2 separate regions of the Homo sapiens genome follow, and region 1 is linked to region 2. The links come from fine-mapping of genetic effects on gene expression. A gene starts in region 2. The other region holds a variant in brackets. All regions are shown on one strand. Distances are between the middles of the regions. Region 1 has its middle 26 kb from the start of RPL11. Region 2 holds the start of ELOA (elongin A).

What was found. PIP is the estimated chance that this variant, and not a neighbour inherited with it, causes the effect. A credible set is the group of variants that fine-mapping cannot tell apart.
Region 1: its variant is the best candidate, but not a certain one, in a credible set for the expression of ELOA in whole blood (INTERVAL, PIP 0.87).

The regions. Positions count from the first base shown.
Region 1 is chr1:23,715,291-23,719,679 of GRCh38, forward strand. No RefSeq gene overlaps it. Among named protein-coding and RNA genes, the nearest start is that of RPL11, 26 kb to the left of the region's middle. The variant A/G (reference allele first, on the strand shown) is at 1,665.
Region 2 is chr1:23,741,666-23,746,054 of GRCh38, forward strand. It overlaps ELOA (elongin A), which reads left to right and starts at 1,806. Exons shown (of 11, transcript NM_003198.3): 1 at 1,806-1,913. The coding sequence starts at 1,839. RefSeq lists silencers at 1,608-1,837, 1,988-2,467.

The DNA of each region.
Region 1 (4,389 bases), 26 kb before region 2:
GAGGACACAGATTCCATGCCCTCCCTCGACACACCACCCTCCCAGCACCTCTCCCCAAGCATCCTTTGGGTGGAACTTGATGCTCGCCTTTCCCCCTCTGCATTCAGTTTGTCCTTTCTCTCTCTCAAAGAAGGTACAGTATCATACTGTAGAGGACAAGTGTCTAAAAATCATATGCCTCAAGTAATTATCTTTTTTTAAACAGATAATCAGAGTCTCATTTACTTTATATCGCTTTAAGTCACAGAATGAGGGAATGACAGAGTCAGAATTTGAACCCAAATCTCCTGAATGCTTTGCATTATACCCTACTGCCTTATGCAGGCCGTGTAACCTTAGGTAAATCTTTATGCTTTCCATCTGTTTCCTGCCCGGTTCAAGAGAGATCATGTATGTGACAGTGCCAGGCAAACCCCACCACAGTGTAGACCTGTGAGTTGCTGCCATCATCCATGTGGTCATGTGGTCAGTGTTTGTCAATGTGTCTAACATTTCTTATCTGGGAATTGTAAAGAATTTCTCAGTTTTTTTTTTTTTTTATTATTTTGTTTTTAAGACAGAGTCTTGCTCTGTTGCCCAGGCTGAAGTGCAATGGCACGATCTTGGCTCACTGCAACCTCCACCTCCCAGGTTCAAGTGATTCTCCTGCCTCAGCCTCCCGAGTAGCTGGGACTACAGGCACCCACTACTGCGCCCAGCTAATTTTTGTAGTTTTAGTAGAAATGGGGTTTTGCCATGTTGGCCAGGCTGGTCTCGAACTCCTGACCCCAGGTGATCTGCCCACCTCGGCCTCCCAAAGTGCTAGGATTACAGGCGCGAGCCACTGCGCCGGGCCAGAATCTCTCAGCTTTAATTGTGGACTGAACCTCTATGGAGAGAATGTGTGTATAATGAATTCCTCTGTGCTCCAGGATATATTCCTTTGGTCCTTGTTTTATAAATTTCCCTCATGCTGATGTAAAAAAAAAGATATTATCATGTCTATCAGCTGAGCACACACAGGGGGATTGAGAGGAATGGAGAAAGACAGGAGGAGGAGGAGATAAGGGAGAACTAACATGGCCAGTATGTATCTCCTTTGTTCTAGGTGTTTGACATATTTGAGATCATCTTTACAGTTGTCCTATGAATTATATATAACATTCCTATTTTACAAGGAAAAGAGGGCCTCAGAGTCACCACCAGGAAGTGGTGGAACTTGAATGCTAACCCTGATCCTTCTGATTCACAGTGACCCCTCACACTGTGCTCTGTTGCCCCAAGAGGAGATACGAAGCATAGATCCGTGGGCTCAATTTTGTTTGGTTTGGTTTTTGAGACGGGGTCTTGCTATATTGCCCAGGCTGTTCTCACACTCCTGGGCTCAAGCAATCCTCCCACTCATTCTCCCAAGTAGCTGGGATTGCAGGCATGTGCCACAGTGCCTGGCTCAGTTTTATATGATTCTACCAAATAGCTTCAGATAAGAACATAGGGAGTATGAAACCCCATGTAAAGGCATGAATGTCAGAAAACTTAAGGAAACAAAAACATGGCTTGCATCTGTAGTCTCAGCTACGTGGGAGGCTGAGCCCATGAGTTGAAGACCATAGCATGCTGTGATTGAACCTGTGAATAGCCACTGCGTTCCAGCCAGGCAGCATGGCGAGAGCTCATCTCTGGGC[A/G]CGGTGGCTCGCGCCTGTAATACCAGCACTTTGGGAGGCCGAGGCAGGCAGATCACGAGGGAGTTCGAGACCAGCCTGACCAACATGGTGAAACCTTATCTCTACTGAAAATACAAAAATTAGCCGGGTATGGTGGTGTGCACCTGTAATCCCAGCTACTCAGTCAGGAGGCTGAGGCAGGTGAATCTCTTGAATCCGGGAGGCAGAGGTTGCAGTGAGCCGAGATCACGCCATGGCACTCCAGCCTGGGCGACAGAGTGAGACTCCATCTCGGAAAAAAAAAAAAAAAAGAAAGAAAGAAAAAGAAAGGGAGAAAACCAGGCAGATCTATGGCCAGTCATAGAAAGAAAAAGAAAGGGAGAAAACCAGGCAGATCTATGGCCAGTCAGTCTCTTTGGGACCTCTGGGAGTGAAAATCCCCGTCAGGAATTGTTGTCACTTTTCTTCTGTGACATCTGCTTCAGGCTTCCAGCCTTCACCCAAGTCAGCTAAATTGCCATTGTTTCATTAATTTAACAAATGTTGATTGAAGGGCCAAGCCCATGCTGGACCCATCGATGTATCGCCTTTATTTTAGGCGCTTTGCTCTAGTTCACTTACTTATGGGTTCACCAACTATTTAGTGCCCCCACCAGGGATATAGAGATGGTTTAGTCACAATCTGTGCCTGCAGGGAGCTCACAGTCTAGTGAGGGTACCACACAATGAAACACAGAGGAAGACAGACGTGGCTTCTACCCTCATGGTGCTAGACTACAGTGGAGGAAGTGGGGAGGGAGCATAAACCAATAAAAAGTGGACAAAAAGTAATACATATTAAGTATAGAGTTACCATTTGATCCAGCAATTCCACTTCTGGGCATATTCCCAAAAGAATGGAAAGCCCAGGAACCAATATGTGTACACTGATGTTCATAGCACCCCTATTCGTAATAGCCAAAAGTGGAAACAACCCAAATATCCATCAGCAAATGAATAGATGAACAAAACGTGGTCTGTCCATACAATGAAATATTACTCAGCCTTAAAAAAAAAGGAATGAAATCCTGATACGTGCTACCATTTGGGTGAACCTCGAAAACACTATACTAAGTGAAATAGGCCAATCAGAACAGGACAAATATTCTATGATTCCACTTGTGTGAGGTACCTAGAGTAGTCACAGTCACAGAGATAAAAATAGAACTATGGTTGCCAGGGGCTGGGGGAGGGAAAAATAGGGAGTTATTGTTTATTGGGTGCATAGTTTGAGCATGGGATGGAAAAAGTCCTGGAGATGGATAAGATGGATACTGGTGATGGTTGCAGTGTGGATCTACAGAATGCCACTGACTGAATGGCATAGCTAAATGTTAGATATATGTATTTATTTTACCACAACACAAAAATAATACATTTGAGACTTTGTCTTGAAGAACATGAAATTTAAAATTATGAAAATAAATTCATTTTATATTTAACCAACAAAAGGTAATACAAATAGTAGTCATATAATAGCCATCATGGTCAGTGCTACAGAGAGTCCTATCTGGTGTTGGGAGAGAAGATGGCAGGTAAACCTGCTCAGGTTAGTGGGGTTCTGAAACCGAGAAGGGCTTCACCAGGAGAATGGCATTTCAACTAAGCCCTGAAAGAGAAAGCTTGGTGAGAAGGGGTGGGTGTTTGTGGAAGACAAGACATTCCAGGCAGCAGGAACAGCAAGGCGAAGGCCAGAAGCAGGAGCGCCCCTTTGGTGGAGTTGAGGAATTACAAGGTTTGTATGTGGAACACAGAGTGGGGTGGAGGTTGGGCTTGCAAAGGATTTTAGGCCCCTCCTAGGAGCAGATGGAATCCATCAAAGAGTTTGGGCAAGGGATTTTTATTTTTAATTGGTAAGCCCCTTGATTTGGTTAAGTAGAAAGGAATGGAAAATAAAGTTTATTGAGGGGTTTCTATGTGTCAGCTGCTTTACCTACCATTCCCTTCTTGGGTAGAAGCCCTGTGAGGTCAGAATTACTAGGAGATGAGTTCCTTGAGGACAAGGATGAGGCATTCTCAAATCTCTGATACTAAGTAGGACACTTGGCTCAGATGATGTGCTCAATAATGATCCACATGGTTGATTTTACAGATGAGGCTCAGGGAGGTGAAGCCATTTACCCCAAGTGAGCAGGTGAGGAGGCCGTGCAGCCTAGGAGCTGTGCCAACCCTAAGCCCATACCCCTTTCTAGACCATGCTACACATGTCACAACCCCAGATTTCCCTGCTGTTTTCCAGAGCCTCTTCCCTGGGTCCCTCCTCCCCAGAACACTGGTGTGTGTACCCCTAGGCCCAAGGGGTGGCCAAGGGGCATCTGTCTGTGAGTGTGACTTTGCACTTAGGAGCTGGTGTGACCCCTGGGCTGAACGTGAGGCCCTGTGGTGCAGGACAGAGACTAAGGCAGTGTATTCATTTCCTATTTCTGCTGTAAAAAAATTACCGCAAACTTACTATCTGACATTTATGGAGGCCAGAGGTCCAAAATGGGTCTCACTGGGCTATAATCAAGGTATAGCCATGGCTGTGTCCTTCCTGAGGCTCCAGGGAGAATCTGTTTGCTTGCCTTTTCCAGCTTCTAGAGGCCACCTGTGTTCCTTGGCTGGTGGCCACCTTCAAAGCCAGCAATCCCATCACTCCAGCCTTTGCCTCTGTCATCACATCTTCTCTGACTCTGACTCATGCTTCTCGCTTTCACTTAGAAGCACC
Region 2 (4,389 bases):
TCAAGCAGTCCTCCCGTCTTGACCCCCAAAGTGCTGGGATTACAGGCATGAGCCACTGTGCCCAACCTCATTGTTTCTTTTCATTTTGGTTATTGAGCTCTCTCTGGATAACATCTGCAGAATGTTTCATGTGTCCCGAGTATGTGCCAGGCCAATTACTCAGCAATTCTGCTTCAAGAATCAGTCTGTATTCCATTACACCAGTGGTACATTTTCAAAATGGAAGGAATATAAAATGTAAAAGTATTTGCTACGCAGAGGAGGGAGACACTACTGCTGGGACTAGAATCGAAGTTTTCTCACACCCAGTTCAATGCCTTTTCTACAACATCCCTCAGTTGAGCCTTAGGGTACCAAGTGGATGGTCATTAGTCTTGTATGGACTTTATATCCAATGCTGATTATAAGGTCTAGATGATGCTAGGTGGCAGAGATTCAAAGTTGGACAGGTCGGTTACTGTACTTGATAAATAAACAGCCCAGTGGCAAGACAGATAAATAAACTGACCATTTACACCCTGAAAAGGTGGTCAGTTGCTTAGGGAACTGGGGGAGGGGCGCCAAATGGAGGAGTAGGGACATGGTAGAGAGGGCTTTTCAGCATAGTGAGTGAATGAATGCTCATTTGAAGAAACAACTTGTGTTTAAGATGTTTTTCTTTCTTCCAGAGCTAGAATCTGGAAGAATCTCTGGGCTTTCCTGCTTTGAGGGAGAGATCAGGCTAGGTGCATTGCCAATTTGCTGCTGAAGATCTGATTAGGTTCTGCTTTGATGTGATCAAATGAGATGTAATCAGTGCTGGTACTTTAAGTGAGTTTGCAACTATTTAGTTGCTCTTTTTAGTAGTAGTATTAGTAATGGTAAAACTTAGTGCTTTTAGGATGAGAGTAGACGGCCTGAAGAATAATATCTTGGGCTCTTCTAATCAAGCCATACGGCTCATTGGCAAGTCATCAGAGGAAACATCTATCTATCTATACATTCATGCAATAAGTATTTATTTAGTGCCTATGTGCCAGACACTGTTTGTGGGGAAAACAAGACACATGGGCTATTATTGCCTCATGGAAGGAACTAAGCTGTTTGGATTTTGAAAAATCCCTTTCTCTGGGCCTCAATTCCTCGACCTGTTCAGAAATGTGCGCTCACAATGGTCCTAGACATCTTAGATTCAGGTTCCATTTTCAGTTCTTTCCTGTCCTGCGGCCATCTGCAAGTTAATTTGGTCTCCCTGAACCTCAGTTTCCTCATCTGTAAAATGAAGATCATACAACTCGTTTCATCAGGTTGTACTGAGGCTGGAAAAGATAGTCTAACTACTGACGCATCGTGTGCTCAGCCTAGGGTGGCTGCTACCGCGGGTGCCTGCGGACTCCTAGGACGGGCACCAGCCCGGGACCCCTGACAAGGTGTTGATTAGGGTGTGGCTAAGCCCCAGGCGGGAGAAAGCGTTGGCATTTATAAGGCCAGGGTCTGGCGCGGTGGCCTCATTCCGTCTTGAAGTAGACCCTGGAGAGGTCTTCCAGGCTTGGGCTCAGCACGCGAGCACAGGGAGCGGGGGTGCCGGCGGCGGAGGCGCGTACGGCCCGAGCAGCCCCCAGCCCCCAGCGCGCACACTTGGGCCAGGGGCGCGAGGAGTGCGCGGCCGCCGGGTGGGCGCTGGGGAGCGGGCCCTGGGGGCGGAGCCTGCAGCCCACCGCCCCCCACACACCCCAGCCGAGGCCCGGAAGGGGCCAGGCGCGCTTCCGTCTCCGCCGGGGATGCACGGAGGGCGGAGCTGCGGCCCGAGGACGCGACGCGAGCCCAGTTCCGGCGAGGAGGCCGCGCCAGTGACAGCGATGGCGGCGGAGTCGGCGCTCCAAGTTGTGGAGAAGCTGCAGGCGCGCCTGGCCGCGAACCCGGACCCTAAGAAGGTAAGCGAGGGGGCGGCGCGTAGCGGGATGGGCGTTGGGTCGGTGAGGGCCCCGTAACGGTCGCGGCCCGAGCGTGGCGGGGTTCGGGGGCTGGGACCCTGAGCCAGGCCCCGCGGGGCTGGGGTCGTGAAGTTCGCGGCCATTGACCGCTGCCCGCGCGTTGGGACCCCGTGCGTCGGGCGTCGGGACGCGGGGCCCCGGCCGCTCCCCCTCCCTCACGGGCCCGGGATGGGGGCGCGCCCGGTGCGGACACCGCGTGCCTAGCGCTTCCTCCCAGAGGCGCTCCGTGGCGTCCCGAGCCAGCTGTTTCCTGCGGGAGAGCGTGCCCGGGGCGGGAGGGCGCTGGCCGCCGCCTCGTTGGCCTCCCGGTGCCTGCGCTGGTGCCCGGCTCCCCGCGGAGCGGCGCGGACTCCCCAGCGGGTGCGTGTTCGCTGGGAGGAGAAGACGGGCGCCCGAACGCTGCGGAGCCTGGACTCGCGGTCTGGTCCGCGCCTCTCGGAGACGCGGTTACTACTCTCCGGCTGGATATCAGAGCGTGGACCTTTCGCTTTCTCAGTGAATCCCTTTCAAAACAGAATAAAGCCTCGCGTCACCTAAGCATACTCCTGAAAACTTAGGTTGGAATTGAAAAAGAGGCGGGGGCCCGGGGTTGGAAGTCGCAGCTAGGTTTCCTTTTGGCCATTAATAGGAAGGTAAGAGCTACCGTTTCTCGTTGTTCGAGTGATGGACAACCATTTTTAATTGTAGTTAACTAGTTTTTGTTGTTTATTGTACAAACTGAATATTAAGTTAAACGCGTTCTTGTACCTTTTCATCTTTCTGTCACTCACTTCTCTGGTCTCCAGGAGACAGTCTGGTGGTTGTCAGGATTTTTTTTTTTCTTTTTTTTTTTTGAGGCGAGTCTTGCTCTGGTCGCCCAGGCTGGAGTACAGTGGCGCGATCTCGGCTCACTGCAACCTCCGTCTCCCGGGTTCAGGCAATTGTCTGCCTCAGCCTCCCGAGTAGCTGGTATTGTAGGCGCCCGCCACCACGCCTGGCTAATTTTTGTATTTTTAGTAGAGACAGGGTTTCACCATCTTGGCCAGGCTGGTCTTGAACTCAGTTGTCAGGATTTTTTAAGTGGAAGTACAACGATGAAAAAGCACTTATGTGTTTGGCATTCTCCGTCATCATTCTGGCCGGGGCGGGCAGTTCTAGGAGTTGGAACTCAGTCCTGGTGGAAAAGGAAGTCGTGGAGGGAGGGCTAGGGCCGTGGGGGAACTGCTCTGCTGAGCCTCTTCCTCACCTGCTGCTTCCTAGGACTAACCTGAAAGGCTAAGGTACCAGGCTGAAAGTCAGTGCTCAGAAAACCAATCGTCATTCTTTGGGGTTTTTTTTCTTGAAGAGCCACTTTCTCTTTACCTTGTTCTAGCCTGTTGGAGGTAGGGTTTCTGCAATTCCAAAGGCCGTACACAGCCTCTCACCATCAGACCACTTTTTAAGGCTCTTCGTTCATACCTAGCTCGAAGATTCACTTCCTCAGGAAGCCATTTTAGTTACAAATCTGGGAAAACTTAAAATGCTTTCATTGTGCCATGTTTTCTGTTGCAGCTTCAGTACCGTACCTAGTGGTCAGGCATACTTACAAGTTTCTTTTTACAGTAACCCCTTGTGGACATCTAATAAATGGTCATTATTTTTTAGTACTAGTTTGTTTTCCTGAACACTGTAAGATCTGTGACTGACGTTTGATACCTTAAAGCAGTGCCATATAATAACTACCCACTATTTGTTCTTTATTTCTGTCAGATAAAAATGTTCTATGTAGTGTCTACAGTCATTTTTTTTTTAACTAGAATTTAGATTTGGAAGTAGTTTTTCTATTAGTTGATTTGCATGAAATACAAAATTAGGAAAAGGCTTATTCCACCTCAACCTAGTTGAACTATTAATGATTTTTTTTTTTTTTTGAGGATTTGGGCTCTTTCTAGATAGAAAATCACCCTGAACTTCTAGCTTTGCATTGTGAAGTGAGCATCATGAAGATGAGAAAATGTTGGGAGATCATTTTTGCAAAGGGCATAATAGTCGGCATTCAGATATGAGTTAACTGCAGAGGGAAAATTGCAAGCTGTCATGTTGGCCTTGTTCCTCTCAACCTTCTGGTAACCTAACAAGCTCCTACAGGTTGTATGTGAAATTGCAAGATGATTATATAGCCCTGTTGAATTTACAACCAGATCTTGCTTTCAAACCATTATTAGCCAAGGGTTTGATTCCACACCTGTGTTCATGGATTTTTTGGTACTAGACATTGCTGTAACTCTGTTTTCACTTTTTCATCTGTTATCTTGGCTCACTTAAGGGAGAAGGTATCAGCAGCCTAGGACCACTTGGTTTCTGTTTTTATGTTTCATAGTTCATGGCTGATAAAAATTACCTGTCCTTAGGCCGAGTGCAGTGCCTCACACCTGTAATCCCAGCACTTTGGGAGGCC